Linked DNA regions of Homo sapiens: all the other regions are linked to region 3. Evidence: fine-mapped expression QTL. A gene starts in region 3. Each other region holds a variant in brackets. All regions are shown on one strand. Distances are between the middles of the regions. Region 1 holds the start of KRTAP5-11 (keratin associated protein 5-11). Region 2 holds the start of MIR6754 (microRNA 6754). Region 3 holds the start of NADSYN1 (NAD synthetase 1). Region 4 overlaps KRTAP5-7 (keratin associated protein 5-7).

Region 1 (7,722 bases), 130 kb after region 3:
AGACCTCCAGCTGATGCCAAGAAGAAAGGAAGCCCTTGGCTGCCCTAAAGCTTCTCTTGGCACATTCCTGTGGGAATGGCAGGTGGTGGGGAAGGGGCTGGAGAAATGCTCTGAGGGAGGGGCAGGGGCTGCTCCACCAGGGCATGGGGAACCCCCAAAGCCCAGGGGATTCACACATGGACTTGGGTCGGAAACGCAAAATTGGCAGGAGGGGCAGGGATGTCCCGTGAGCCCCTAGACCCGAGAGGCTCCTCTTCTCCACTTGTGTTCTGAGTTGAGAATCGGGTCCGCGTCTGTGTCTTTCTCTCTTCCTATTTCTCAGGACAGTCAGCGCCGCGGTCCCCGCCCCCAGCCCCCCATGGCTTCTCTGAGGCTGATGGACTCTCCCCGCCCTGCCGGCCGCCTGCGCCCCTCCGTCTGCATGAGGGGCAGGGTGGGGTCAGAGCAGGAAATCCCTCTGGATGGGGCTGCGGACAAATTTGGGTGAACGATACCCCTAGTTTGCCCCGCTCCTCCATCCCTGGCCTGTCCTCCTCATGTGACTTGGTCACCCTGCAGAACCGGGACTTTTCTTTCCCGCGTGGAGGCTGTAGTACTTGAGGCCCAGGTCAACGTGCGTGGGAGACCCGTTCCAGAACCTGGTGATAGAAGCCGTGAATCCTGTTCCTGAAAAGCCTACACGCACGTGCCCGTGCCCCAGGCCCCGGCGGCGGGTGAGGGGCATCTGTGTTTAATGGGCATGTTCGCTGCGCCTGGCCCTGGACAGGAGGACGCGGTGCACCACCCCGTCCCCAGACAGCCTTGGGTCTGCAGGGGTCGGGGCTTCAGGCTGCCGCTCTTCAAGGAGGACCCGCAGGACTTGGCAGGATCATCAGAGCCTGGAGGGCAGGCAGCTCTGGTCAGGACTTCCAGTGATGACCGCAGGGGGTTCCAGCTACCGGGGCTGGTGATGGGAGCCACTCTGTGCAAGCGCATACACACTCTCTCACACTCACACACTCACACACCCCTACACTGACTCGTACACTCACATGGATTCACACACTCATACACACATTCTCACACTCACACACTCATACACACATTCTCACACTCACACACACTCACACACCTCTACACTGACTCACATGCATTCACACACTCATATACACATTCTCGCACTCACTCACACACTCCTACACCAACTCGTACACTCACATGCATTCACACATTCATACACACTCTCATACTCACACACACACACTGACACACCCCTACACCGACTCATACGCTCACATGCACTCACACACTCATACACATACTCTCACACTCACACACACACTGACACACTCATGCACCTGCTCATACACTCATGTGCACTCACACACTCATGCAAATCCTCATGCATATTTGCACACACACACAGTCATATGCATACTCATACACGCATTCTCTCACACACACACTCATACACTCACATACACACATTCAAACAGAAACAACCCCCCATACACCCTCCACACACTCCTCTAGTGTCTGGGGGCTTCAGACTCTCACAGCTTGAAGAGGAGACACGCATCTCTGCTGAGCGAGCCTCTCTACTTCTCTGATTGGTAAACGGTGGCTCTGAACGGGGTCTGGCCTCTTCCAAGAAGCAGGTGGTTTTTTGGCAGAATCAAGGGGTCGCATGGATTTTCTCTGCTTGTTTTATTAAGACTTCAAAATACAAATCCCTTTAAAACAATCAGTGAACCACTTAAACCAATGCTAATATTATCCTGTGGGATTTATGCAAAATTATGTGACCAATAAGGTGGGTCTCTTTTGAATTCCCTTACTGTTCTGTCTGGCCAGTCCTGCTGCTGGAGTCACCCCAAAAGCTGTGGCAGGGGAGTCACTGCAGGGGCAGCTCCAGCCCCTCCAGAGAGGGGGTCAGTCAAGAGCATTTGTCAGGGGAGGTCAGGAGGGCTGTGTCCCTTTCCCTCCCTTCATCTTTTTCAGAGGATGCCAGCCAAGGCCACAACGCCAGAGGGGGCAGACGTAGGTAGGTCCAAGCCACAGTCACAACTGAGAGAAGGGGGACACGCAGGCATGTCTGCAGCGAGGGCCCAGGCCGTGGAGCTCACATGGGGCTGTGAGGGGTTAGCCTCAGGGTCTGAGATAGCTTCTGCATGTTTAGCCACGTGTTTGAGATTTCACTGTTTTGGGCATCAACGTGAACACCTTTCTCAGTGTTCAGGGCCTGGGAATGTTCACAGCACAGCGTGGCTTCAAGCCTGCTGGGAAAACGTGCAGCTGGCCAGGTCACAGGGTGGGCAGGACACAGAAAGAAGTGGGTCCTGGAGGACTCTGCACTGGCTCAGGAACAAGGGAGCCCCCCTTCCCTCCTCCTTTCTCTCTATGCCTCTCCCAGCCCTTCGTCCATCCAAGCAGTCACCATGCTTGAAATTCTACTCCCAAAGCTATTTTTAGAGTTGGCTGGTCTCTTCCCTGTCATGCTGCGTCTCAGACCCTCTCACATCTGCCCCGCTCGGCCTTCTCGCCACCTGGCTGTGGAGGACCTCAGTTACCCCTCCACCCTATCGTAGGGGCTCCCCAGCTCCCGTCCAAGCACCCCAAGGCCAGGCGCCACGCTGCGTTCTTCTCGCGCTCCTGGTGCATGCAGTGGTGCTTAGCAAACTGTGCCGCATGTAGGAGTGGATCACCCAACAGCCTGATGTGATCAGGAAGCGCAAAGAAAGGGGGTGCTTTAGGGCCAGGAGGGAGGTTGAAAGGCTCATTCAAAAGGAACAGCAGGAAAAGGGCCACACTGAAAACAGGACTCGTGAGGGGAAGCGATCGCTTATTCAAAGGAATCACAAGGTCAAGGCTCAGAATTTGCAGAGCCCAATAGACAAACGGCACCAGGAGCTTTCCTGGGACTGTGCCTGGGAGGAGAGGGTTTAGAACATCAGGGTAGAGAGAGGTGGTGCAGGAGAGGAAGAGGAGCGGTCTCATGCACCATGACAGCCGCGCATGGTGAGACGAGGGTGGTGAGGGGCTGTGCCCCGCACAGGGCCTGTGAAGGCTCTTCCTGTTCCAAATACTGCTGCTCCAGCATTCTAGAAAACAGTCACCCCAGGGCTGTGATTCACGGCTTTATGCTGATACATTGGTCTCTGTCTGGAGCATGTGGATGAGAGCCAATATGACTGTGTGTTAAAGATCAGATCTTGTACTGACAGCAAATAGGGACACAGCAGCTGGACTGGGAGCAGCAGGGCTTGCAGCAGCTGGACTGGGAGCAGGTTGATCCACAGCCTGAGGAGCAGCAGCAGAGTTTGCAGCAACTGCACTGAGACTGTTGCCCAGTATGAAGTGCAGTGGCGCAGTCACAGGTCACTGCAATCCCCATCCCGTGGTCTCAAGCAATCTGCCTGAATAAACAAGACTACAGGTGGGTGTCCCCATGCCCAGGTACTTAAAATAAATTTTTTTTAAGTTAAAGATAAGATCTCTCTTTATTGTCCAGGCTGGATTTGATCTCCTGGTCTCAAGTGATCCTCCTGCCTTGGCCTCCCAAATTGCAGGGATGACAGACATGAGCCACCACATGCAGCCTCTTTTATGTCTGGTATCATTTCCTTTCATTGTTCATTAGCTCCTTTGGGAACAGTACGCTACCACTGTGATCTGTTTCATGGCAGGCTTCCCAGCTTTCTTCCATTGCCTGTAGGGACTTACCAAGGGCCCTTGCACCCACTCACCACTAGAGGGAGGAAAACCTTCCCCATTTCAGGAGCCGAATTCAAAATTCACGCTGTGTTTTCCGGCACGCACCTGTTGGCTCTTTCGAGGTTCCCCTGTTTTCAGCTCTGTTAGATGTTTCTTTGCTTTCTCCTACACAGACACTGATACTCTGGGGAACTGTGGCTCTTGGAAACTTGTCCTGACAG[T/G]CTTGTGTTTTGAGGCTCACTTGTTCATTTTTTGTTTGGTGTTTTTTTGTTTGTTTTTGTTTTGTTGTTGTTGTTTGTTTTTTGTTTTTGGTTTATTGAGACAAAGTCTCATGTTATGTTGCCCAGGAGTTCAGAGGCATGATCAAAAGTCACTGCAGCCTCAAACTCCCAGGCTCAAGCCATCCTCTTGCCTCAGCCTCCTGAGTAGCTGGGGCTGCAGGTTTGCACCACCATGCCTGGCTTACCTGGTTTTGTTATAAATCTCCAGCATGCATTTTTGGTTTTGTTACCTAGTTGCTTGGTGTCCTGTGGGTTGTGGGAATGTACAGGGCTCAGATGTAATGAACTCTGCGTTCATGTCTGCTGCCACCTTCTGGAGTTTCCCAGTTTGGATTTTTGAGTGAACTGTCTTAAGCAGCATTTCCTTTTAGCGTTGTGAAACTATCAATAGCCATGTCCCCTAGCAAGATGCACCTTTGACACACTTTTATTCCCTCTCCTAAATGTGGTTGAAATAATCTAAGCCTTTATTTCTAGATTATTTCATTTTTCCTTACATTGCATCTCTTTTCTCTCAGAAATTTGTCTTGGAAATTCCCACTCTGCTCTTCCCCGGCAGTATCAGCAGTCGCTTAGATCTGTGAGTGTTCTGTGGGAGCTCATTTCTCACCAGCACTCCCTGTGTGTTGTCTTCCCTCCACCTTTTCCCTCCGGGTTCGCTTGGCTGGAAATCGTCCTCAGATCACTCTTGTCCCCTCCTCCCCAGTGCGTGATTTCTAAAGCCTTGCCTGTGACACTGGTCAGAGAACAGGCTCAGCGTGGTGGCGCATCACCATGAAACAGATGGACTTGGCTCAGGGTCCCCAAATGTGTCACTTCCCAGGAACTCTCCTTTCCTGCCGGGAGACTGAGCTCCGAGGACACCTTGGGCCATTCTGTAACTTCCTGGTTACCTTTAGTTATGGAAAGCCGTTGACCTCATAATTGTAAAAGGCTAATTGAGTGTTTGAATCAGAGTGCGTTGGAGCTCAGCGGTGCTTCACTCCTCCCTCCTCCGACCTTGCCCTGCCTGGGTCCTTCCAAGGCCCCAGAGGAGAGCGGGAAGCTGGAAGCCATGGGTCTTGTGCAAAGCCCTGCTTGGCTGGTCATCAGGACTCAGGGCCCGCCTGCCCCTCTGCGCCTCTAGGGTGGGCATTGAATACCGAATCCTCCCCAGGCTGAGCCCTCTTCTTCTGCAAGCAGAGAGAGTGAAGATATTTGAGGCCGCGTGGAAGGCAGAAGTGAACTTCGTGGTTCTTTTTGAATGCACCAAGCCTGCTGGCAGGCATTTCCCAGCTTAGCTGACAAATTAGAACACAGAATCAGTCACCACACAGGAAAGGGGTTAGACAGAATTGCACCAAGTGTACAGTTGGTTTACAGACATGAGAGGCTTTATTGCAAGGAAATTCATTCATTTTTTTTTTAAATAGATGGAGACAACAGGAAGGAAGGAGACCTTCTTGCTCACAGGTGGGTCACAGGAGAACAGGCAGCAGCCCAGGAGGACCCAGAATCCCAGTGGTGGTTGAGAAACTGGTTCTTAGTGATCACTCAGGAATGTCGGCCTGGCCTTGTGGGGTCAGACCTAGCATCTCAGTCAGCCCAGGGAGAAGAAGAAGATGGTCCACACCCAAGTGCAGGGAACACCATGGCGTCCAGGGAAGAACACCTCCTGCATCAAGGAAACACATGTTTCCGGAGTGAGGAAGCTGAAGGCAGGGCCTAGAGGAGAGCCGAGCCATGGAAAGAGGTGCATGCATGGATGATGAGCTAGAGCAGGTGCAGGTGCCTCAGGATGATGTGTGGGATGAACTGATTCAGAGAAACCATAAGAAATGCTTTCACCAAAGAGGAGAAACCTGAAGGTCTGGGTCCAGAGCCTCAGATCTTACACTGGCAGCACACGGGGACACAGCAGCTGGACTGGCAGCAGCAGGGCTTGAAGCAGCTAGACTGGCAGCAGCTGGATTGGCAGCAGCAGGGCTTGCAGCAGCTGGACTGGCAGCAGCTGGATTGGCAGCAGCAGGGTTTGGAGCAGCTGGACTGGCAGCAGAATGACCCACAGCCTGAGGAGGAGCAGCAGGGCTTACAGCAGTTGGACTGGGAGCAGCCACAAGAACCACACCCACCCTTGGAGCTCCCACAAGAGCCACAGCCCCCTTTGGAGCCCCCACAGGAGCCACAGCTGGAGCAGGAACAGGCTGGCACACAGCAGCACACAGGCTTGCAGCAGCAAATGGGCACACAGCAGCTGGAGCCACAGCCCCCACAGCCAGAGCCACAGCCCCCACTGCCGGAGCCACAGCCCCCACAGCCAGAGCCACAGCCTCCAGAACAGCCACAGCAGCCCATGATTCTGGCGGATTGAGAGTAGAGCAGGTAGAGGAGCAGGTGAGAGGGAGGTGCAGGTGTGGAGCCCCCTGAGCCTGGGCTCTTTATATACCTGTCCAGAGGTCAGGGAGGACGCAGGGTCCTTTCCTTGTGACTGTTTACACTATTTTTCCAGAGCTCTATTTTTTTCCTCTTTGCTAGTGACTTCCTCCTGGCTCAGTTGAGCATCTACTTTCTTTGTTTTCTAAATTTGTCTTCTTCCCCATTTGTTTTGGCCCCTACAATTAAAACCTCAGCTCCAGGCTGGTCTGGTGCTTCCCGCAAAGTTCCAGGGTGCTGGTCACCCGCTCTCTGCTGACCACATGTGACCAATGGGCAACAGCCTCTGCCCACATGCTCTCATCTTCCCTGTCTATCCCTCCAGATAATATTAATTTTATGTTTTTAGATTTCAAAATTCACCCATGGTCTTTATAGGAAACACAAGTAAAGAAGAAAACAAATTCTTTATTATCATGTATCCTGGAGATGGATTTGGTAGATTTCTGCAAGCATAATATTAATATAAATATTCATGCATATTATATTAAGTAATATTTTACTCATGCCAGTCTCAGTTTTCTGGGTGTGTTAGACCGTTCTTTGCATTGTGTAAAGAAATACTTGAGGCTGGGTAATTTATAAAGGAAAGAGGTTAGAATGGCCATGGTTCTGCAGGCTGCACAAGCATTGCACCCATCTCCGCTCGGCTTCTGGGCAAGCCCTCAGGGAGCTTTTCCTCATGGTGGAAGGTGAAGCAGGAGCAGGCACGCCACATGGTGAGAATGGGAGCAAGGGGTGAGGAGGGGCCACACACTTGTGAACAACCAGATCTGAGTGAACGCACTCATCACCAAGGGGATAGCGCTAAACCATTCATGAGGGATCCGCCCCCATAATTCAAACATCTCCTATCCCGCCCCACCAATGTGAGAGTTGGAGGGGACATCCAAATTGTATCAGTGGAGATCCTTTTTTTTTTTTTTTTTTTCTTTTTTTGAGACAAGGTCTTGCTCTGACACCCAGCCTGGAGTGCAGTGGCATGATCATAGCTCACTGCAGCCTCTAACTCCTGGGCTTAAAGAATTCTCCTTCCTTAGCCTCCTGAGTAGCTGGGACTATAGATGTGTGTCATCATACCCAGCTAATTTTTAAATTTTTTGTAGAGATGGGGTCTTGCCAAGTTGCCCTGGCTGGTCTCAAACTCCTTGTCTGCAGTGATCTTCCTGCCTTGGTCTTCCAAAGTGTTGGGATTACAGGCATAAGCCACCATGCTCAGCCAATTTTTTTTTCCTTTACGGTCCAAATAACAATAATATAATCTCATTTTGGTGTTTGCAGGGAATCTCTTCCTCTACTCAAGCATTTCTGAAAATCCCACAAATCTCTCTGCTGT
Region 2 (7,722 bases), 23 kb after region 3:
CGTGTGGGGAAACTGAGGCAGCCCGAAGCTCGGAGAGCCCAGCCCACCACCATGTCACATAGTCTCCTCAAGCCACCTTCATACTCTTTTCTTTTTACCTGAATGCGATTGTTTATTGCATTGGGGGGAACGCTTGGCAGTTCCTTTGCCAGTTCATCAGTTCGGAGGGTTCAGTTTGAGTTTTGTTTAAATGTAGCCGCCATTCCTCATTTGTCCTGAGATGCTCATCCTCAGCTCCTCGGTGTTTTCCTCTCCAGGCACACAGAGGAGTACTTTCTGCCTCGGATGATACAGGACCTGACAAAGCAGGTGAGTCCCTGGGTGTGGAGCCCGTTTTTCAGTCGGTTGTCGCTGTTCTCGGCCAACAGTGGACCAGGTGGGGCGGGAACGCTTTGGGATCCAGGTAATGGAAGGCACCACAGTGCTCACAGGTCTGAAACAGACAAAGGAGGCAGGTTCCTATAGTGAGGGGGGCTGCGTGGCCAGACAGCAGCCAGGGTGGCTCCTCCTTGCCTTGGGGCTGCTTTTCCTCCCTTCCCCCACTCACACTGGCTTCCTCCTCTTCATTTCCTCCTTGTGGCAGAAGACAGCCTTCTCCATCCCCAGGGGCTATGTTCTGACATTTAAGTGTTATCTAGACCAACAGCAAAATGCCCTACTCTCAATTTTGAATTCTAAGGGAAGGCACCCTGGTGTCCCCTCTCAGCCACTGCCTTGTGGCTGGGAGTGGGGGCCTAGCTTCATCAGCACAGGGCAGCAGCTGCTTCAGTGTGATCACAGGACAGGGTCGCTTCAGAAGCTGCTGGCCCCAATTGGCAGCCCCATCGATGTCCGTGACATTCTGCCCCTTGGCTGCTCAGAGTACAGGCGTCCCCTTCTTCCACACATAGGCTCCTAAGGGCGTCTCTGCCTGGCACCACCCGGTGTCCCATGCGCAGCCGCAGGGCACCCACCTCTTCGGAATGTGCGAGAGCCCAGAGCCAACTCCAGCTCTTGTGGCTGCAGGATGTCCGTGGCCCTAGGTAGTGCGTGGCCCAGACAGGGCATGGCTAGTGAATCTCATGCACTCTTCTCTTCCGACTGCAGGAAACCGTACCCTTCGGAGATGCGGTGCTGGTGACATGGGACACCTGCATTGGAAGTGAGATCTGTGAGGAGCTCTGGACACCCCACAGGTCAGCCCCATGCCCCTGTGCTGTCTGATCGCCCACCTCATATGGGCCAGCTGGGAGGACCTGGGACTGCAGACGTCCTGGGGCCGTGGCCGTGGCCGTGGCCGTGGGCTGGGAGCTGCCGTGGGAGAGTGCAAGGGGCTGCCAGGGAGGCTGGTTTGGAGGAGTCTGGTGGCCTGTTCTCTTCACCTGCCTCTGCCTGCAGCCCGCACATCGACATGGGCCTGGATGGCGTGGAGATCATCACCAACGCCTCGGGCAGCCACCAAGTGCTGCGCAAAGCCAACACCAGGGTGGATCTCGTGACTATGGTCACCAGCAAGGTAGGGGCTGGGCCAGGGAGCGTGCGCCACAGGGCAGACACTGTATCTCAAGAACTCCTGCATCCTCAGTGCCCATCGCAGGGCTGGGCCCACACACAATGGATGTTCCAGGCTAGTAATTATGGCCTGGACTCAACAAGTGTGCCCTGCTGCCCTCCAGGGCTTCGCCGGCACAGCCCATCTCACCCACGCAGCCACCCTATGAAGCAACCCTGTCACCCTCTCTGCCATGACCAGGAACCGGAACGTGCTCCTTGTTCGTTGGCATCATGGTGAGGCGTAGGGAACACCCGTACGTTTGCTGCTCCTGCTGTTGGGCAGTGAGACGTGCGAGGGGCAGTGCTGGTTCATCCTTCACGGGGCAGATGTGGGTCTAGCTGAGCCGCGTTTGAGTCTTGGCTTCATCATGCAGAGCTTTCTTTGGCTTGTCTGAACCTCATCATGCCTGAGGGAGGTGATGGGGTCTGCCTTGTAGGGTTGTTGTGAAGGAAAAACAAATGTTTTGTGTAGAGCCTGGCACCTAGCAAGGCGGGGCTCGCCGCAGCTTCACAGGTCTGTGCTTCCCCACACATATGCGTTATCTCTGCGGTGGTGGGACCACTCAGGATGACCTAGCGGGACTCGGCGGAGGTTCCTGTACTTGGGCAGGTGGCAGGTGAGGGTGGTGGACACAGCTGACCACTCCGCTATGGGGTCCTCCTTTTTCAGAACGGTGGGATTTACTTGCTGGCCAACCAGAAGGGTTGTGACGGGGACCGCCTGTACTACGACGGCTGTGCCATGATTGCCATGAACGGAAGCGTCTTTGCTCAAGGATCCCAGTTTTCTCTGGATGACGTGGTAATGAGCGGGCCTGGACATGCCTGGGGGAGGGTTCTCTGTGCAGAGACCGAGCTCCTGGCTCTCCCCTGTAAGCCGGGTGCTTAGTGAGGGCCCCTGTGGAGAAGCCCCCGGGGGTCCCGCCTGCTCCTGGCTCTCCCCTGTAAGCCGGGCGCTTAGTGAGGGCCCCTGTGGAGAAGCCCCCGGGGGTCCCGCCTGCTCCTGGCTCTCCCCTGTAAGCCGGGTGCTTAGTGAGGGCCCCTGTGGAGAAGCCCCCAGGGGTCCCGCCTGCTCTGATGGCCTCAAATTTACCTGGTTGGTGAGGGGGGACCTCCCGCCCTCGGGTCTGGAGACAGCTGAACCCCGACACACAGCACATAGTAGTGGACGGATGAGGTTGAGGGCAGCTTACGAGTCCTGCGTTCCCACAGTGCGGGAGGAGGGCTCCGTGCCACGCAGGGCCAGGTGGGAGTGTGCTCAGGAACAGAGGGGACGGCCCCCGCTGTGGGAGGCGGGCTCTGTGGTGATGAGAGGATGGGTGCCGCCTGGCCCCTGCGGGTGGGTGTCGTTGGTTTGTTTGAATTCCGAGGGCTGGCAGGGAACCAAAGCCACTCCTTTGAAATTAGCAGGCTCCATGGCCCCTGAGACAGGTCCAGGGATCCCATGTATGGTGAGGCCGTTCAAGGCCCTGTCTGTCTTCCTTGGGTGTTGAGGCCACATATACTCATCTGAGGCCTTATGCCACGCTGCCCCTGAGTCCTGGGAAGCAGAAGTGGAGACCCCAGGACACTCTGGTCAGGGAGGCTTTGTTCTGTGGGGATCTCTGAGCACACAGCGGCCAGCTGCGTGAGGGAGGGCCCTGGGGGAGCTGTGAGTTACAGGTCGGAAGCGCCATTGCTATCCCGAAGCGACACAGATATGTGGGTGCTCCGAGGAAGGAGATGACAGAGAACAAAGCTAAGAACCCTGCTTGGCACATTCCTCACCAGCAACTGAGCTGCCGCTTGGAATGGGGTTCAGGACCTTGTTGGGGCCCCAGATTCCTTTGGGAAGCTGATGAAAGCTCTGCACATTCTGCGGCTAAAGATGCGCATTAGCACAGGGCAAGGCTTC[C/T]CAGGTAATCGTTATCGCCATGGAGGCAAACTTCCTCCACAGAGAAGGGACCACAGTTGGAAAGTCCTTGGGGAGGTTTGGGCCACTCTCCCTTTCGGTTGTTTGTTTGTTTTTGAGATGGAGTCTTGCTCTGTCACCCAGGCTGGAGTGCAGTGGCGCAATCTTGGCTCGCTGCAACCTCCGCCCCATGTTAAAGCAATTCTGCCTCAGCCTCCCAAGTAGCTGGGACTACAGACCCATGCTGCCATGCCCAGCTAATTTTTTTGTATTTACTTAGTAGAGACAGGGTTTCACTGTGTTGCCCCGGCTGGTCGCAAACTCCTGAGCTCAGGCAATCCACGCACCTCAGCCTCCCAAAGTGCTGGGATTACAGGTGTGAGCCACCGCACCCGGCCTCTCTTTCTGTTTTTGAAGCAAACAAGAAAAAATGGGCTATTATTGCCACAAATGGAAACAAATCCCAAGTGCACAAATACAACAAAAAGTAACTTTTAGTTCTGCCCCAAGCCGGCGTGGGTGGGAGCGTCTCCACTCTCGGGCTCAGACCACACGCGGGTCCACAGCACTGCCTCCCACACACAGCATTGCCTGACTCGTCTTTGGACCCGACGGCCTTCCACTCTGCTCTTGTTGGGAATGGGCATTAAAGCAGCGGATTCACCGAGGCAGGCGGTAGCACCGGAGGCGAGTTCTGCAGCTGGCTTTGCAGGAGCAGGGCGAGCTTGTGTCCTGGCGTCGCCGACTCTGCGAGGCTGTCTGAGCAGTTCATTGCTTTGCTCCCGCTGCGTTCCCATCCTCATGATTCTGTCTGGTGCTTTCTGCACAGCATAGGTGTGGTCAGCACGGAGGCGGTTACAAAACCAAACCAGTTTCATAGTGGACCAAGTGAACTTCACCCTGAACAAGAATTCCACGGTCTTTTCAGGGGTTTCTTGCACGGGGGCAGGCAAGGGTGTGGCCGTCTCGACTCCAGGCCCTGCTTTCCACATGACAGTGTCCCCAGAGGCCTCCTTGCGCTTCATCATTAACCGCGACAGAGCTGGAAGGGCTTTGAAGAGAAGGATTAAGTTCCTGCTGATGGGAAGTGTGGTCCTCTCCCCGTTCACGTCAGAGCCACAGGCACATTGGTGGTCGTGTTGATTGGCAGGTGTGTTGGCAATCAATCACCTGCCCCAGGACCCCCGCAGGTTCCCGGCCCCACATCAAGCCACCAAATCGGAGTCCTCGGGGGTCTGTATATTTAGTGAGCACCAGGCAGTTGTTTCGTGCATTAGAATCCGGGAGCCGTTGCCTTACACGTCTCTAGAGTTCCTGATGTTGCCTGAGAGCTCCGTCGTAGGCTGTGGCCACAGGCCTGCTGTATTCAGAGTGGCCGCGCTGTCCTCAGGCTCGGGCCACTGCCCTCCACCAGGTCCTCCGTGGTGCACCTGAAATGGTCAACAGAAGTCTTGTGACACGTGGAATCATTTCAGAGTCACCCCTTCTGCCTCCTGCTCAAGCAACAGACCTGCCGATCACCCCCGTCGGGCCCGCGTTTCTCAGGGTCTTCCTAATCCCCTGGGCTTTCCGGCTTGTCGTGTGCCTGGAGTCAGGCCGCCGTGCGGCAGGCTGTTAACCTAGCCTCGGGGAGAGTGGGATGGAGCCACCTTCTCATGGAACGATCCTCGCCTTCCCTCATCTCCATTGTTTTATGGCTTCACACGGACCGTGGCTTTCTGCATGGAAGCTTGGTGGCCAGGGTGCTGTCACTTTGGGAAGCAGCCAGAGAACCACAGGATGCGTGAATCGGTCTCCTTGTCTTCATGGGCATCTCCGGCCAGGTATGGCCCCCTGTTACGGCGGTAGGAGCAAGGGGCGCGCAAGGTGGCCACGGCCATCCTGTGAACCGCCGCAGTGGTGCAGGTGCTGTTCCCGCTGTCCCACACTCGTGTTTAGCAAGGCAACACTCAGGAACACAATTTGATAAAGATATTTTTTCATGAAGGAATAACCCCTATGAGTTAAAACCTCATTTCTGCATATACCGCAATTGGCAGAACCCCTACCATAGCCGGGTTCAAAGGCAGGGCAGTGTCACCTCCTGTGACACAGGCAGCACGTCCAGGCCAAGACCCTGGTGTGGATGCCGGGGCTGCGGCTCCGCCTCTGCCCTCCCCCAGCTCCATCCTCCTTTGTGTTGGCCTCAGTCTCAGGTTGCTTCTCCAGCTCCGCCCTCCTCTGTGTTGGCCTGTCTCAGATTGCCTCTCCTCGTGGGCATGGGATGTTTGCCCCAGCTCCAGCCATCCCATCTTCACACAGCCACATGCAGAGGCAGCAAAGTGGCCTTGGCTCCTTGCGTGTCTTTTTGATGAGAGGGGTGTTCCCAGAAGTCGCTGGCAGAGGCTTACTGACACTGGGGTGTCTTACTGACAGGGGTGTGTCTTACTGACATGGGGGTGTCTTACTGACATGGGGGTGTCTTACTGACAGGGGTGTCTTACTGACAGGGGTGTGTCTTACTGACGGGGTGTGTCTTATTGACAGGGTGGTGTCTTGTGCTGTGATTAGTGGGTCACTGGCAAGTGTCTGAATGAAGTGGAGGTTCCGGTGGCAACAGTGACGGGGAAGGGCTATGGGTCCGCCTCAATGTCATCTGCCCCATCCCTGGGCCTCCAGGAATCCAGGGTCTCAGCCCCTGCTTTAGAAGGTGTGACAACACCTTTGACAGTGGCCAAATTACACGTGGGAGTTGAACAAACGGGAAATCACGGGTTCTCTTTGAAATTTCCTTCTCCAGGAAGTCCTGACGGCCACGCTGGATCTGGAGGACGTCCGGAGCTACAGGGCGGAGATTTCATCTCGAAACCTGGCGGTGAGTGCTCCAGTAGACACCTGTGTGGGATGCTCATCAAAGACGTGGAAAGTGGCCCCATTCGTGCGGGCCTGGTGGAGGCCGTGAGGGTGCAGTGCCTGAAAAGTCTGACAGGGAAGTTCCGGACTTCCCGAGCGTGGAAAGGGGCTGGTGCCGCAGACAGAACCTGCTTCCATCTGTTCCCCGTCATCCTCTGCTTGGGCCAGGCCCTGAGCTGGGGTGAGCTGGGGACAGGCAGGCAGAGAGGCTGACGAGACAGTCAGCGTGCTAGGGGCTGCCACACAAGGAAGACCCAAGCAGCCTTGGAGCCCAGGAAGGCCTCAAGGTGAGGGGTGGCAAGCGTGGTAGGAACAGGCACACAGTGTGCAGCCGAGGCTGGTCCCCACTTCGGCAGTTGGAGGCAAGGTCCAAGGCACAAGTGAGCCTGTGTCTGAGACCCTGGGATGCAAGTAACGCCCCTCCTGCAGCCCGAGGTCCTGCTGCTGGTAACCTGGAGCTCTGCGTTTCTGCAGGACATCGTCACAAATAGGATGTCCAACTGAGCAGCTGTCATGAGACAGTGATTTTTGCAAACATTGAAGAAGTGTGATGCTCATAACAGAGCGGACTCTTCTGCTGTTGATTGATTGAGACAGGGTCTCATTCCATCGCCCAGGCTTGAGTGCAGTGGTACCATCACAGCTCACCGCAGCCTGGACCTCTGGGGCTCAAGTGATCCTCCCACCTCAGCCTCCTGAGTAGCTGAGACAACAGACACACACCACCATGCCCAACTAATTTTTGATTTTTTTTAATTTTTTTTTTTTTTTAGAGACAGAGTCTCACTATGTTGCCTAGGATGGTCTTGAACTCCTGGGCTAAAGCAATCCTCTTGCCTCGGCCTCCCAAAGTGTTGGAATTACAGGCGTGAACTACCGTGCCCAGCCTTTTTTTCATAGCAGTTTTATTAAGTTGTATTTGCCATACCACCCAATGTATCCATTTAAGCACCTGATTCAGTGGTTTTTCATGTACTCATGGAGTTATGCAGCCACAATCTTAGCGCATTTTCATTACCCCAAAAAGAAACTGTACCCATTATGCACCCCGTTCCCCTCCTCCGGTCCTGGCAACCACAAGTCTACTGTCTGTCTTCATGGATTTGCCTATTCTCGACGTTTCATTGGGATGAAATCACACAGTGTATGGCTTCCACACTTTACTGTGCTGTTGTCAAGGTTTATCTATGTGTTGGGTGCAGCCACCCCTTGGTATCCACAGGGATTGGACCCAGGAGCCTGCACCGATCCCCTGCAGGGATGCCTGTGTCCCACAGTGCCCCCTGCAAAACTCACTGATATGAAGAGTCGGCCCTCTGTATCCATGGGCTTCAGATCCTGTGATTACTGTATCTTCTGTCTGTGTGCAGTTGAATCTGCGGGTGTAGAACCCACAGACACAGGGA
Region 3 (7,722 bases):
ATGCTGTTATCTATTTTCCATCTCCAGTTTCCCGCGGTTGTCCCAATAATGCCCTTTACAGCCCTTTTGTTATTGTTGTTTTGTTTTGCTTTGTTAAGACGGGGGTCTCTGTCACACAGGCTGGAGTGTAGTGGCACGATCACAGCTCACTGCAGCCTTGAACTGCTGGGCTCAAGCGATTCTCTTCCCTCACCCTCCTGAGTAGCTGGGACTACAAGAGCACACCACCACACGCTATTTTTTTTTTGGTAGAGATGGGTGGGGGGGGGGGTCTCACTATGTTCCCCAAGCTGGTCTCGAACTCCTGGGCTCAAGCGATCCACCCACTGTGGCCTCCTACAGTGCTGGGACTACAGGTGTGAAGCTCTGCCCTACAGCCCTTTTTTAAACCCCAGGATCTAATCAGGGAGCCACACTGTGCATTCAGGCTATGCACTTTTTTTGGCAGGATAATATACTACATAGAGCATGTTTTATCTTGTTAGAAGGCTGTCAACCTGAAATAACCAAACAGGTCAGAATTTAGCTTAAAGAGAGTTTATTTAAGTGTATAAAGTTTGAGGACAGGCTGCCTGGGAAGCACAGATTTTAAAGAATGGAAATCAGTATTTTGAACTGTAGATGTTTGGGATCATTTATGTAGACAAATTTTAGGGAAGTTTAACAGAATTTTAACATCTTTTTATGCATAAAGTTATAATCTGACCAGCTGAGGTGGTCTTTTTTAGGTGGAAGGTATATTTAACATTTTACACTGAAGATGTAGGAGTCTGGTCTAAGTACGGGATAATAAGAGACAATCTATAATAAAGATCAGTAATTAAAAGGGGAGCAGGCCTGGTCTGTGGTCTCTCCTAGTCATTTATAAAACATGAATGATAAAGAAAAACAGCCTATAATCTAAAAGACAAAATTACAAACATGCTATGTGACCCAGTTTCTAGGACTTAACTTCCCTCTTGACATAATAAATTTATTTATTTTTATTTATTTATTTAAAGACAGGATCTTGCTCTGTTGCCCAAGTTGACCTAATAAATTTCAAGAGTCCTAAAATTTTCTTTTTTAAGACAACATATCACTGTGCTCCATGATTGATAGTGGGGCTCCGTGGTTTCTGCCAGAAGTCTCCATTTTTCCTTTTGTTATTAATGAGTAATTGGTGCAGTGATACTTTGAGACTGTAAATATGCTGTTCCCAAATGACCTTTCACCCAGTGAACTAGCATTTAATGAGGAATCTTGCCTGAATCCCTTATTTCTTGGGACAAAGTGTTAATTTTCTAATTTTATCATTCCCTCAACATTTATTAATAAATTATTTATTAGCAAGCATTCTTCTGTAGGGATTTCCTCTTTGATTTATTTTTTATCAGTATGCCCTAATGGATTTAGCTGACCGAGTTATGATCCTTACTGTATTGTCCTGTATTTAGCTAACGGGAGCCCCTTCAAATTGGCTTCTTTTTTCATATGACATGTATCTACCATCCTTTGAGTACTTACTTATTTTCTGGGACAACCAGATGTTCAAGGATCCTCCCCTTCTCTGCCCAGGCCTGGCATCAGCCATTGTTGGCAGGAGATAATTTGAGCAGATCGTGTGGATTTCAGAAGCATGAAAACTACTGTGAGGATTAAATAAGTTAGCATGTATAACATTCTGGTGCTTTTGTGGAGTTTCCAAATTGTCATGAACAAGCACTACTTTATAGACAGGAAAAAAAGTGATTCAAAATGTGAAAACGGGTATATGTACATAAGGTAAAAATAAAATCCTAAGCCCCCCATTGACCAAAGGGACCTTCTCCTGACCAAGGGGACACCAGAAAAACCTCAACACTGAATTCCCAGACATGATGGGATGGGAGGTCAGATGCGCCTGGTAATAGCCCCCTGTTTCAGAGTTTGGACACCACAACTGGCCGGCATTCATGTTAAAACAGAGATCGTAAGACTGACAGAACGGACTCTGTGGCAATAAGATACCAAATTATAAACAGGACCCAAAGCCATGCTAGGCGAGGGTAAGTCAGGCAACCCACACTTAGAGAATAAACTATATTCTAAGAGCCACAAGGCTTTCTGTTTCTCTATTAGCCAAACACACACTAGCCTTGGGATAGGGAATATTAAAACAATTGCAGCTCCACTAGGTGCCAACTAACTGACTCTGTTTCACCAGCCATAGCAGCTGTGATTGGACAAGAGACTGATTTCAGTGACTTTCTCCTAATAAGAGACCACCGACCAGCTGACCATGCCGACCAGCTGACCCGTTAATAGAGAGAGATGATGCACCTGCATGCCTTTGTGTCCTGAAAAGACGTTTTGCCATAAAGGCCCTAATTGTAAGATGTGTAAATGTTAAGTCTCCACCCCAAAGTGAACATGGGTCATATATTACATGCTTTGCTCAATAAGAGGGCATGTGTCAGGACCACCTTCATGAATATTCATAGCTCCTCCTGTTACCTGTTGAATATGTATGTTTAGCCAATCCCTTCAGCATAGCGCTCCTGCCCCAACCCCTCCTCCTTGGACGTGCCTGTCTCTGGCCTTGGCTGGAGACAGATTCCCAGCCTCAGACAGATGGCCGCCACCTTGCAGGCTACGACCGTTTACAAGAAATAAAGCCTTCTCTTTTTCCAAATTTGTGAATTGTGTGTTTTTAAACTAACATGAATGACAGAAGGAAGGATGGCCTCTTCAAGCAACGATGATGAGGCAGTTATTTATATGGGGGAAAAATGGATTCTACCGTGGGTGGACTAAAGAGGAAATGTGAAAAAATAAAAAGTGAGAAACCGCTGGTAGTGAATCGGTGCAAGCGCCCTGGAGAAGAGACTTGGCAATATTTAGTAAAGTCAAACAGCACGAACCCTACTACTCTGCAAAGCTGCTGCAGGAACTGGCGGAACGAGGTCACGAAGGAAACCTTGCCGGAAAGGAAATTGCAGCAGTGCCTGTGTGCGTGCGTCTGTTGGCAAAACGCTGCTAATAACGTCAATGCCCATCCGCTATTGAATAAACCTGCTTTACTGCCACTATGGAATACCAAACTGCAGAAAAATAATTAAAAGAACGTATCTCATATTACAGGGGAAAAAATCAAGTTGCAGAAGCACATTCAAGTGCAGTTCCTGTAGTTTCAGAAAAGGCAAACAGTGCGCTACCTGAGCTACTTACACACGTGGTACAGGAGTGAAAGGGGCAGGAGAGGGTTCCCAAGAATTCAGCGCCATCCGCCCAGGGTGGCGGGATTCCCAGCACGGAGAATCGATTGCTATCGTCTGCTGTCCCGCGGGCACGATGGAGCGCTCCTACCGTACTCTCCACTTTTGGTGTATTTGGAACGTTTCATGCCGTATTAAAATAAAACATGGCTAAGCTGGATGTGGGGTGGCGGTGTGGGATAAAATAGAGGGGTGCTGCAGCTGGGCGGTGAGCCCCCTGCACCTGTGCACCTGAACGGGTTTGCCCGCAAGGGCCGGGCCGGGGCCGGGGCCTGGGACGTGGGTGGAGCCGGGGCGGGGGCGGGGCCCTTCGCGGTGCCGTGAACGCTGAGGCCACCTCGCTGCGCAGGCGCGGTCGTGAGCTCCTCAGACGGGGCGGGGCGATCCGTAGGCAGGGCCTGACGCCGCAGTCCTCCTTGGCCGGAGCCTCAACGGATGGGCGGGGAGGGGGCGGGGCCGGGCAACCCGGAAGGTCCGGCGTCCCAGCCGCCTACCTCGCTGGGACCCTGGTCTTGCTGTCCCCCGCTGGCCTCCTGCCCAAGCGACTGCGGCCAGGATGGGCCGGAAGGTGACCGTGGCCACCTGCGCACTCAACCAGTGGGCCCTGGACTTCGAGGGCAATTTGCAAAGAATTTTAAAGAGTGAGTCTGGGGCGGCGGGGGCACCGGTTTGGGGTGGCGCACGGGCACCGTGGCTGGGCCCAGGCTTGCCCGTGGCGTGCTCACAGCCTTGCCCTGGGAAACTCTCGGCCCTGGGCATGGGATCAGGTGAGATAATGGGCAATGACCCCGCCAGTGGTACGTGCTCAGGTCCTCGTCGGGAAGTGAGTGTTTATAGTTCCCGGGGACGAGCGATATACAAGGCACGGTTAAGAAAAGTCTGGCGGCTTAGGCGGGAGGCCTGGGGATGGACCCGTGTTCTGATATCTCTGGGGTCCCGTGGTTGGGACTGAGCTGCCCATTCTCGGAGATATCTAAGTTGAACAGAATGGCTGCGCACTGGCGGGGATGGTGTGCAGAGGCCAGAGATTGATGGTCTCTGGTCCCCGTGGGCCTTCCTGGTGGGAGAAGGCGTCCCAGAAAGGGAAGTAGAAAAAGACGCCTGTCATCCCAGCATTTTGGGGGGGCCGGAGGGGGTGGAAGTCACCTGAGGTCAGGAGTTCAAGACCAGCCTGGCCATCATGGTGAAACACCGTCTCTACTAAAAATACAAAAATCAGCCGGGCGTGGTGGCCTCGAAGATAGGGTGTGGTTGTTGAAAGGTCACCATCTAATTTTCGTTCATATGGACGCACCGTGGAGGATGAAAAGTTAAACTATTACACCTGCACCTAAATGGGCAAGCCTGCAGGTGTAGTCAGGTTGCAGCTTGTCTTGCACTGGTCTGCTGACTGCAAGAGCCTTTGCCAGGAACAATAGAAACAGAATGTTTCAAGAGATGGCATCTAATCAGTATGTGCCCTGGATTATTATTATGATTATTATTATTTGACATGGACTGTCACTCTGTTGCCCTGGCTGGAGTGCAGTGGTGTCATCTTGGCTCACTGCAGTCTCTGCCTCCTGGGCTCAAGCGATTCTCCTGCCTCAGCCTCCTGAGTAGCTGGGATTACAGGCGTCTGCCACCATGCATGGCCAATTTCTGTATTTTTAGTAGAGACAAGGTTTCACCATGGTGGCCATGCTGGCCTCGAACTCCTGACCTCAAGTGATCCACCTGCCTTGGCCTCCCAAAGTGCTGGGATTCCAGGCATGAGCCACCGCAGCCAGTGGTTTTTTATTTTTATTTTTTAAATATCAACCTGCTTTCACCTCATTTGCTCAGAGCAAATCTAGTTGAACTGAAGAAGGCTTGGCCAAAACTAAGTTTCCACTCTGCCAGCCTCTCCTCCCTAGGTGCTTGTTGGAAGCTGCTGCCCAAGACCAGTAAGCCGATGGTGCCTGACAGTGGCACCACTGCTGGATCGTAATCCTCTAAGTCCTTTTTCCTCTAGATGGTGTTGGGCATTTCCTTGTTAATAAACTACCAGGGTCTGACTTCTTCCTCTTCCTCCGCCTCCTCCATGGTGCTAAGGGTCAGACCTGCAAGCCCTCCCTGTTTCTCATTTCCTGCAGATATAAGCAGGTATATGCAAGTATAAGCAGGTGCAGGCGTACTCGTGTATACAGGTGTATACAGGTGTATGCTGCCCTCTGCTGCCATGCTGTCAACAGGAAGCCTGACTGCATCCCGTCTGGGAAGGCACAGAGCATTTTTGTTTGTTGTTTGTTTTTTTTTTTATCCTACCTACTGCAGCAGGTTGTTTCATCTGTCTTTGAGTGTATAGGTGCTGAAATTGCTCCATTTTCTTTTTCTCTCTGTACTTACAGGTATTGAAATTGCCAAAAACAGAGGAGCAAGATACAGGCTTGGACCAGAGCTGGAAATATGGTGAGAACAGACACAGACACCCTGGGGTCGTCAGCTAGCGATACCAGCATCAGTTTTCCCCAGCTGAGAAGGCAAGGAAGGAGCAGGGACAGTCCTGAGAGCTGTGGACACGCCACACCCACTGTTGGGCCTGGTTAATGCCATTGAACACCTGAGCAAGGGCAGGCCCAGGGAGGCTGAATAAGTCTAGATTCCCATGTTGAGTAATTAAAAGAACTGACTTTTACCAGATGAAGGCCAGTTTCAAAGTTGGGCTGCTTCTGTGTTACCACTGCCCTTTTGCTGTGGTCTGAATGTTTGCGTCCCCACAAAATTCATATGTTGAAACCTAACCCCCAGATGATGGAATTAAGAGATGAGGCCTTTGGCAGGTGATTGGGTCATGAGGGCATGAGAGTGGAGCCTGCATGAATGGGATTAGTGCTCTTACAAGAGAGGCCCAAAGGAGCTTGTTGGCCCCTTCTACCATGTGAGGACACAGAGAAGGAGACAACCAGTCCTTACCAGATACCAAATCTGCCAGCACCTTGATCGTGGGCTTCCCAGCCTCCAGAACTGTGAGCAATACATTTCTGCTGTTTATTAATTACCCAGTCCAAGGTGTTTTGTTATAGCAGGCTGAAGGACCAAGACATATTCCCAGGTTTTCATTCCGTGATCTCAGAATCTTTCCACAAGCAAGCATAGGTTATCGTTTCTTATATGCCTTTTTGTAAAAATCAGGAAAACTGATTGCTTATTTCCCTTCTTGTCCCTTCAAAAACAAAAACAAAAATGAAAACAAAACAATGAGTAGCCACGTTGTAAGTCTCTTGTAAGCGATAGTCCTTTCTCATTTTGGATGTCAGCTGCCATCTGTGCTCTGCTAGTTTCCCGTTGGTCTTTAGGCCTCTGACCCGTTGTGGGATCTGGAAGTTCCTCTTCAGTCTTTGTCCCCTGCCTTAGTGTGTGTTCTTGCTTCTGGACTTAGAGTAAGCAGGAACTGTCTTCTCTTAGGAGGTTTTGTGTGAGTCCAGAGGCATCTTTCTCTAAGTCCTTCCAAGTTTCTTTCCTTCATTAGATTGATTTCTCTCCTTAGAATACCACCTTCAAATAGGGCTGTTTCTCCCATAATATCCAAGAATGTTTACTTTGTTCTTTAATTTGTCTTCATTTGATTGATTCTTTAAGAAATTCTTCACCTAAGTGCCAAGGGATCTAGGGTTCTGGGCTGTCTGATATCACAAAGCTTCGATCCTCTCCTGGCCCCGTGGCCGGATCTTCTCCTGGGCTGGACTCAAGGCCTGATCGTCTCGTGAGCCTGACCTCTCCTGGGCTGGTCCGGGGGCCTGATCCTCATGTCCTGTCTGCTGCTTGCCCTGGAGGAGCTGCAGTGGTGACAGCCCAGTCCCCCTGGCCTGATGTTGCCCAGATGCTTAGAGTTTACGTCTTCTTTTCTTTCTTCGTCCTAGTCTCTCTCTCCTATAAATGTTACATCCACCTCTCTCTTTCCTCCAAATATGGACCTGTTTCATTTTAAAAGTGGGAGGATGTCTAACTAAAGGCCCCCGGGATGGAATATTTGCATCCAGCAGGGACAGGGGCCCAGCTGAGCAGGTCTCCAAGTAGCTTACAACCTGCTGAGCAGGCTCCTGTGAAATATTCCAACAACTTACAGAGAGGAAACCGAGGCAGGAGAGGAGGGACATCACTTCACTGAGCACACCGCCTCTTGTTCTTACTGGTTAGAGGTCCAGCACCTGATACACAGGGAGGGCCCAGTGGCCCTAGAGCAGGCTGACTCATGGACCAGAGACCCTCTCACCTAGAAAAGTCAGCAGTTTCCTTTGAGCTGGTGCTGGAAGCTTTGGAAAGGGAAGGCTACCACCCAAATGGCCCCAGGACCAGCTCCTGCTGCTGACTCACCGAAGGGGTGAGAGGCCTCTGGTCGCTGGATGCCATGCAGCGGGACGTGTGGTGTTATAACGTTATTTGGTTTCACATGTGGGCCAGGACGCCAACAGGGCATGAAAACCCATGAAACGGATCCGTTGGAGGAGAAAGGACATCTCAGAAC
Region 4 (7,722 bases), 79 kb after region 3:
CTGCTTTATCTTAAATGAAAAGTTGCAAACTAATAAAAATACCATGCCGACAAACTGAAACACATATCTTGCTGATTTCTCTGTTGTTCGGGGTCATTACTATGGCTATGGCTATTGTTTTCTTGTTCTTGTTGTGTTTCGGACTGCGTGGGTCTGATGCTGATGTTGCTGGAAGGTGCTAGGATGGGGCTGGCTGTCTCCTCTGCCTCTCATCTCCTTCCTGGCTGACCCCTCTTTTCTCAGAACCCCTCTCTTCCTAGGTCTTTCCAGCTATTGATCTGATGGAGACAGGACTGTTCCTCAGGCCAGGGCCACAGAAGCAGAAGAGGCTGCTGAAAACTCTGGGGAGTTCAGACTTGCCTCCTTTCCCTGGTCCAGGCCTCTGCCATCTTCCTTTGGGAAGTTTTTGTAACCAACTTACTCTGATTGTCTTTGTTGTTACACAGCCTGTTGCCTCTGTAAATAAACACTCCTAGCACCAAGCCAATATTGCTTTTTAAGAATTTTGAAAGGGCCGGGCGTAGTGGCTCACGCCTATAATCCCAGCACTTTGGGAGGCCGAGGCAGGCGGATCACTTGAGGTTAGGAGTTTGCGACCTGACTGGCCAACATGGTGAAACCCTGTCTCTACTAAAAATATAAAAATTAGCTGAGTGTGGTGGCACGTGTCTGTAATCCTGGCTACTTCGGAGGCTGAGGGAGGAGAATGGCTTCAACCTGGGAGGGGGAGGTTGTGATGAGTCGAGGTCGCGCCACTGCACTCCATTCTGGGCGACAGAGCAAGACTCCGTCAAAAAAAAAAAAAGGCAATATTAATAGAGTTGAATTATTTCAAGTTATTTGGAAACACAGCAATTTATTGGTGGGATATGTCCTAAGCATAGAAAGAACACAAAAATAAAATTCCTAAGCTATTTTTAGTAGTCATGGTGGCAGCAGTGGTGTCGTTATTCTGCTGTGAATGCTGTATGGAAAAAGCAAATGCATAATTAGGTTGGTATCAGAACTAGAATTTTTGGTGTGGAACTGATGAGGTTAAGTAAAAACCTTGTCATCCTGAATTTGAATTAGATATATCGATATGAAATCATGATGTTTTTTATCCAAATAAAAATAGTTTCCTCCTCCATTGGAAGACTTAGAAATAATGAGCCATCCTGTAGCAGTGAACACTCCTAGCACCAAGACTGTTTGTTATCTTCAAATGCTATTTATTGTATCTACCTGGAACCTGGCTTCTCTGGTGAATGGGCTGGAAGCGAACAAGACAAATCTAGAACATCTTGTTATCCCAGAAAGCAGAGATGATAACTAAGACTAATGCAGTCACATCAAAAGAACTAAAGAGTCAGCCGGGCAAGGTGGCTCATGCCTGTAATCCCAGCATTTTGGGAGGCTGAGGCGAGTGGATCACTTGAGGTCAGGAGTTCGAGACCAACCTGACCAACATGGTGAAACCCTGTCTCTACTAAATACAAAAAATTAGCCAGGTGTGGTGGTGCATGGCTGCTGAGGCGAGTGGATCACTTGAGGTCAGGAGTTCGAGACCAGCCTGACCAACATGGTGAAACCCTGTCTCTACTAAATACAAAAAATTAGCTGGGTGTGGTGGTGCATGCCTGTAATCCCAGCTACATGGGAGGCTGAGGCAGGAGAACCCTTTGAACCTGGGAGGCAAAGATTGCAGTGAGCTGAGGTGGCGCCATTGCACTCCCGCCTGAGCAGCAAGAACAAAACTCTGTCTCAGAAAAAAGAAAAAAAAAATGGTGAGAGGCAAACCTAGAGAAACTCTCTGTAGACAGACTTGGGACAACCTGAACACCAATTTCTTAAATGGACTGATACACATCAAATATGTTTAAACTAGGAGTGAGTAATCATACACAAAAAATAATAATACAGATCCTATGCAAACTGTAAAACTTAGTTGCCTTTAGAGGATTCTAGGAATCAGTTCATTATTTTAAAGATGACTAAGTAAAGGAAAATAATCAGGCACTTATTCTATCTCTGACAGACAAACTCTATCTTATGGTAACAAAATTAGAGGAAGTATTCCAGTTTATAAATAAAGAAGAAATCATAGAATTAGAAACTCATCATTTTGTAACCCCTAATGAAATAATGGGGCTATCAAATTTACTGCATGCAGCCAAATCAGTGGAAAATTTATAGCCTTAAATGCATATGTTAGAGTAAAAATGAAAAACTTAAGCTCATTTAGCCAAAAACCTATCTATAGGACTGGCAGCATTGCCACGCAGAGCACAGAATGGGGTGATAATTAGGGCTATTTGTAGGCATCCTGGTTCTCCTCTCCTTCTGGGAACAGGTTGGATGGCAGGTAATAGGGTGGCCCTTTCATGAGCCCTCTCTAAGTCAGGTGTGGCCATGTGATTTGCTTGCGTCAGTGGGAAGAAGTTTGAAGCACCTGCTGCAGTTTTCTGCATTCTCTCTTTCTTCCCCCACCATGACCACTAACGTTCCAAGCAGTGGCTGCTGCTTCCGACTGAGTCCCAGAGTGATGAAGTACAGAGCAGAGTCACCAGCTGATGTGCAGTGACCTGCGATGTGAACAAGAAGTAAGCCTGTGTCGTGTGAAGTCACTGAAACGTGGGGGTGGCGCGTGTGAGCAGCGTAATTGGTCTATCCTGGTTGACCCAGAAACCTACCAGAACACAAACATAGCATTGTGGCCTTGGTTTATTGGTCAGGGGGTGGGTGGAAAGGAAAGCTATCGGAGGCGAGAAAGGTAGTTATTATGTGTTTGGTAAGACTGTCCTAGATCGTGTATCCCTGAGGGAAGAGTTCAGAAAACACAGTGCCACTCCCGCGTGGGTCATTGTGGCTGCATTTATCAAAGCATTACAAGAACAGGGTGAGCTCGAAAGAACCGGCTGGTTTCAGCCAGGAGGAAAGTTCTAGAAAGCCTGGAGAAACCTGGGGAGCTACAGAGTTCTCAGTTCTGCCTGGTAAATGATAAGACTTAGAAGGCCTTTGAGCAGCAAAGGACAATTAAAGCAGAAATGAAAAGAACCGTCTTTAAGGGTACACTCTGATGAGATTCCATGAGGGCGGACCACACCACAGGTAGGGAGTTGGTGGCTGCCTCCAGCCTTGCCAGTGGGGCAGGAGGGGCTGCTGTGGGGTCAGTGGATCCAGAAGACGCCAGAAACTTCTCCCCACTGTGGCTCACCAGGCGTTCTCTTTGCTTGGCCTGTGGCTCCCGTGGGTAAATTTGTGTCTTGCTGTGTAATAAAGAGGTTTCTCCAGGGAAGAGGGGGAAGTCTTTGGCCCAGGCTGGACCAAGTGACCTGCAGATTAAAGATAGCCTCACTATCACAGTAACAGGCACCAAAGAAAGGCCTGCTGCCGGCCATTGTTGGAAATAGGCCCAGCAGAACCAATGCTGTCTGTGCTTGTGGTGTGGGGGGTAGAAGAGAAATCAAAAGAAACCCCAAACCGGCCAGGCGCGGTGGCTCATGCCTGTAATCCCAGCACTTTGGGAGGCTGGGGCGGGTGGATCAC[G/A]AGGTCAAAAGATCAAGATCATCCTGGTCAACATGGTGAAACCTCATCTATACTAAAAATACAAAAACTAGCCGGGCGGGGTAGCACGCATCTGTAGTCCCAGCTACTTGGAAGGCTGAGGCAGGAGAATTGCTTGAACCTGGAAGGCAGTGGTTGCAGTGAGCCAAGATCCTGCCACTGAACTCCAGCCTGGCGACACAGCGAGACTCTGTCAAAAAAACAAACAAACAAACAAACAACAAAAAAACCCACAAAACCTTCCTTAAAAATGAACAGATGTCACATAATTGTTAGCAAGATTTAGGACATAGTTGTAACTCTCCATGAAATCAACAAAGAGAAAATCACGTGTTGGATATTTTATGCATTTTTTTGATAAAATCATAGGATTGCCTGTTGCAACATCCTTCATTTCACAGTTGGCCGTTACAGAATGACGCTGAAGACATTACAGAATGACGTTACAGAATCACGTTGCAAAACCAACTGAGCTCCTTCTCATCCTTCACGAACGCCTCTCTTCGAGGTCAACTCACCCCATTGGGAAGTCCCTATCTTGTCTCCTTGGCCAGCTTCTCTTTTAGGGTGAACCGCCTGATCTTCACTGCAGTGGCCTTGCCTGGCTCCCAGCAGATGTTCTCCAATGTCACTTTCAGTGACATCACAGAATCCTACATTTCTTTCTTTTTTGCAAGCATTGCAATTTTACTTAAAATTTGCACTGTAAATATGACTGTGGAAAATGTATTTAAGAGAGCTGGTTCTGCAAAGACAGGGAAGAGATTTGGGAGGCAGGGGTGTGGGAATAAGCGATATTCTTAAGTAAGTGAGCTGCTTGAGTGGAGGACACTTTTAGAAGTGGTCAGCTTGGGCTTGGCATGGTGGCTTACTCCTGTAAGCCCAGTATTTTGGGAGGTTAAGGAAGAAGGAACACTTTAGCTCAGGAGTTCAAGACCAGCCTGGGTGACATAGCAAGACCCCGTCTCTACAGAAAAATAAAATAATTAGCTGGGCTAAATTATTAGCTGGGCTAATAATTTTTTTATTTTTTTTCTACAGAAAAATAAAAAAAATTAGCTGTGGTGGTGCACACCTGCAGTCCCAGCTAATGGGGAGGCTGAGGTGGAAGAATCTCTTGAGCCTGGGAAGTTGAGGCTACAGTGAGTTATGATTGCACCACTATACTCCCGCCCGGGTGACAGAGTGAGACCCTGTCTTAAATAAATAAATAAATAAATAAAAGACATGGTCAGCTTGTTTACTTGTTTGTGATTATTTTCTTTTTTTCCTTCTTCTTCCTCTTTTCTTTTCTTTTTTTTTTTTCAATAGAGGTAGAGTCTCACTGTGTTGCCCAGGCTAGTCTTCAACTCCTAGGCTCAAAGGATCCTCCTGCCTCAGTCTCTCGAGTAGCTGGTACTACAGGCATGCACCACTGCCGCTAGTGAATATTTTCAAGACCAGATGGTCCCCCCAACCCAAGGAATCTTGGATAATGAGTGAAGGGAGACCCTGTATGGGGCCTGGAGAAGCTGGCTATGTGTGGAGTGGTCACTGAGGGAGCATCTTAGCATGAATCTTGGTCAGAGTGATCGGGGAACCAGACTCAGTCTGGAAACAAGCAGGGTACACCTTCAGCTTACAGACAGCAGATTGTGGAGCTGCTCAGCCTCCATAATTACATAGTTCAATTCTTCAGAATCATCTGTGTATCTCTCTATCTATCTATCCATCCATCTATCATCTATGTGCCTCCATATCCATTTATGTTTTTGTTGTTGAGATGATCAAGTTGGTTCTAAAATTTCGTTGGAAAAGCAAAGGAATTGAAAAAAAGAAAACAATCTTTAAAAAGAAGAATGAGGTTGAAGTCTCACAATACTTGACTTCAAAATCTCCCATAATGTCACAGTGACGCTGTGTTTGCATTAGGAAGCAGCATACAGACCTGCGGAGCAGGACACAGGAACAAACTCGCCATAGTGTCGGCTGATTCTCATTAAAAACATCAGCGATTTCAGTGGGATAAGGATGGTTGGTTTATTTATTTGTTTATATAGTCATTTATTTATTCATTTTTCAGATGGAATTTTGCTCTTGTTGCCCAGGCTGGAGTGCAATGGGATGATCTCGGCTCACTGCAACCTCCACTTCCCGGGTCCAAGCAATTCTCCTGCCTCAGCTTCCCGAGTAGCTGGGATTACAGGCCTGTGCCACCACACCCACCTAATTTTGCATTTTTAGTAGAGACAGGGTTTCTCTATGTTGGTCAGGCTGGTCTTGAACTCATGACCTCAGGTGATCTGCCCATATAGGCCTCCCAAAGTGCTGGGATTACAGGCAAACCACCTTTGTTTGTTTGTTTGTTTTGAGACGGAGTCTCACTTTGTCGCCCAGGCTGGAGTGCAGTGCCACAATCTTGGCTCACTGCAACCTCTGCCTCCTGGGTTCAAGCGATTCTCCTGCCTCAGCCTCCTGAGTAGCTACGATTACAGGCGCCCACCACCACGCCCAGCTAATTTTTGTATTTTTAGTAGAGATGGAGTTTCGCCACGTTGGCCAGGCTGGTGTTGAACTCCTTACCTCAGGTTATCTTACCTCGTCGGCCTCCCAAAGTGCCTGGATTACAGGCGTGAGCCACTGCGCCTGGCCACGATAGTCTTTTTATCAAATGCTGCTGAAACAATTGGATGAAAATGTGAAAAAATGGATCTCAACTCCTACCTCACATTACACACAAAAATTAGCTTGAGATCCAGCATAGAACTAAATATAGAAACAAAAACTCTAATGCTTCTAGAGGAAAAGCTAGGAAAGAGAGTTTTCAAAAAGGTCACAAGAAAGCACTAGCTGTCAAAGAAACAAATGTTAAATTGCACTTCAAAATCAAAAACGTTTCCCTATAAAAATAAGATAATAATAAGGCAAATCAAATACTGAAAAATTATATATTATGTATTATACATACATATATATTATATATACACATATGTAGGGAAAAGAAAGAGAGATCAGACTGTTACTGTGTCTATGTAGAAAACGAAGACATCAGAAACTCCATTTTGACCTGTACCCTGAACAATTGCTTTGCCCTGAGATCCTGTTAATCTGTAACTTTGCCCCAACCTTGAGCTCACAAAAACATGTGTTGTATGGAATCAAGGTTTAAGAGATCTAGGGCTGTGCAGGACGTGCCTTGTTAACAAAATGTTTACAGGCAGTATGCTTGGTAAAAGTCATCGCCATTCTCCAGTCTCGAGTAACCAGGGGCACAATGCACTGCTGAAAGCCGCAGGGACCTCTGCCCTGCAAACCTGGGTATGGTCCAAGGTTTCCCCCCAGGTGATAGCCTGAGATATGGCCTCGTGGGATGGGAAAGACCGTCCCCCAGCCCGACACCCATGAAGGGTCTGTGCTGAGGAGGATTAGTAAAAGAGGAAGGCCACTTGCAGTTGAGATAAGAGGAAGGCCTCTGTCTCCTGCCTGTCCCTGGGAACTGAATGTCTCAGTGTAAAACCCGATTGTACATTTGTTCTATTCTGAGATAACAGAAAAACCCCCCTGTGGCAGGAGGCGAGACATGTCGGCAGCAATGCTGCTCTGTTATTCTTTACTCCACTGAGATGTTTGGGTGGAGAGAAGCATAAATCTGGCCTACGTGCACATCCAGGCATAGTACCTCCCCTTGAACTTAATTGTGACACGGATTGCTTTGCTCACATGTTTTCTTGCTGACCTTCTCCCCACTATCACCCTGCTCTCCTGCCTCATTCCTCTCGCTGAGATAGTGAAAATAGTAATCAATAAATACTGAGGGAACTCAGAGGCCTGTGCCGGCACAGGTCCTCCGTATACTGAGTGCCGGTCCCCTGGGCCCACTTTTCTTTCTCTATACTTTGTCTCTGTGTCTTATTTCTTTTCTCAGTCTGTCGTCCCACCTGATGAGAAATACCCACAGGTGTGGAGGGGCTGGCCCCCTTCACACATATATGCATGTATATAAAATACATGTGTAAATATATATATATATACATACATATGGCAAAGCATTTCATTCATATATTCTTGATATTGAATTTATGAAGAGTTCCAACAACTCAATAACCCTACAATAAAGTGGGCAAACAATTTTAACAAAACCTTTTAACAAGAAAGATGTGAAAATGACCAGTAAGTGCAAGAAAAGACCCTCACAAA

The links.
Region 1: its variant is fine-mapped to the expression of NADSYN1 in sun-exposed skin (GTEx, PIP 0.94).
Region 2: its variant is fine-mapped to the expression of NADSYN1 in whole blood (TOPMed, PIP above 0.99).
Region 4: its variant is fine-mapped to the expression of NADSYN1 in monocytes after LPS (Quach 2016, PIP 0.92).

The regions. Positions count from the first base shown.
Region 1 is chr11:71,576,530-71,584,251 of GRCh38, forward strand. It overlaps KRTAP5-11 (keratin associated protein 5-11), which reads right to left and starts at 6,346. Exons shown (of 1, transcript NM_001005405.3): 1 at 5,326-6,346. The coding sequence starts at 6,308. The coding sequence ends at 5,838. It also overlaps the pseudogene KRTAP5-14P. RefSeq lists enhancers at 2,106-2,619, 2,620-3,131, 3,554-3,848. The variant T/G (reference allele first, on the strand shown) is at 3,915.
Region 2 is chr11:71,472,192-71,479,913 of GRCh38, forward strand. It overlaps NADSYN1 (NAD synthetase 1), which reads left to right. Exons shown (of 21, transcript NM_018161.5): 6 at 258-309; 7 at 1,087-1,175; 8 at 1,378-1,495; 9 at 2,204-2,335; 10 at 6,204-6,278. MIR6754 (microRNA 6754) reads left to right here and starts at 1,312; the gene lies at 1,312-1,377. RefSeq lists enhancers at 136-1,043, 1,044-1,950, 4,486-5,065, 5,066-5,645, 5,646-6,225. The variant C/T (reference allele first, on the strand shown) is at 3,428.
Region 3 is chr11:71,449,505-71,457,226 of GRCh38, forward strand. NADSYN1 (NAD synthetase 1) reads left to right here and starts at 3,699. Exons shown (of 21, transcript NM_018161.5): 1 at 3,699-3,877; 2 at 5,606-5,666. The coding sequence starts at 3,793. It overlaps DHCR7-DT (DHCR7 divergent transcript), which reads left to right. Exons shown (of 2, transcript NR_186309.1): 2 at 2,186-2,653. RefSeq lists enhancers at 2,368-2,417, 2,538-2,617, 3,855-4,356, 4,357-4,856 and a silencer at 3,428-3,797.
Region 4 is chr11:71,528,188-71,535,909 of GRCh38, forward strand. It overlaps KRTAP5-7 (keratin associated protein 5-7), which reads left to right. Exons shown (of 1, transcript NM_001012503.2): 1 at 1-482. Among named protein-coding and RNA genes, the nearest start is that of KRTAP5-7, 4.8 kb to the left of the region's middle. RefSeq lists an enhancer at 7,179-7,238. The variant G/A (reference allele first, on the strand shown) is at 3,529.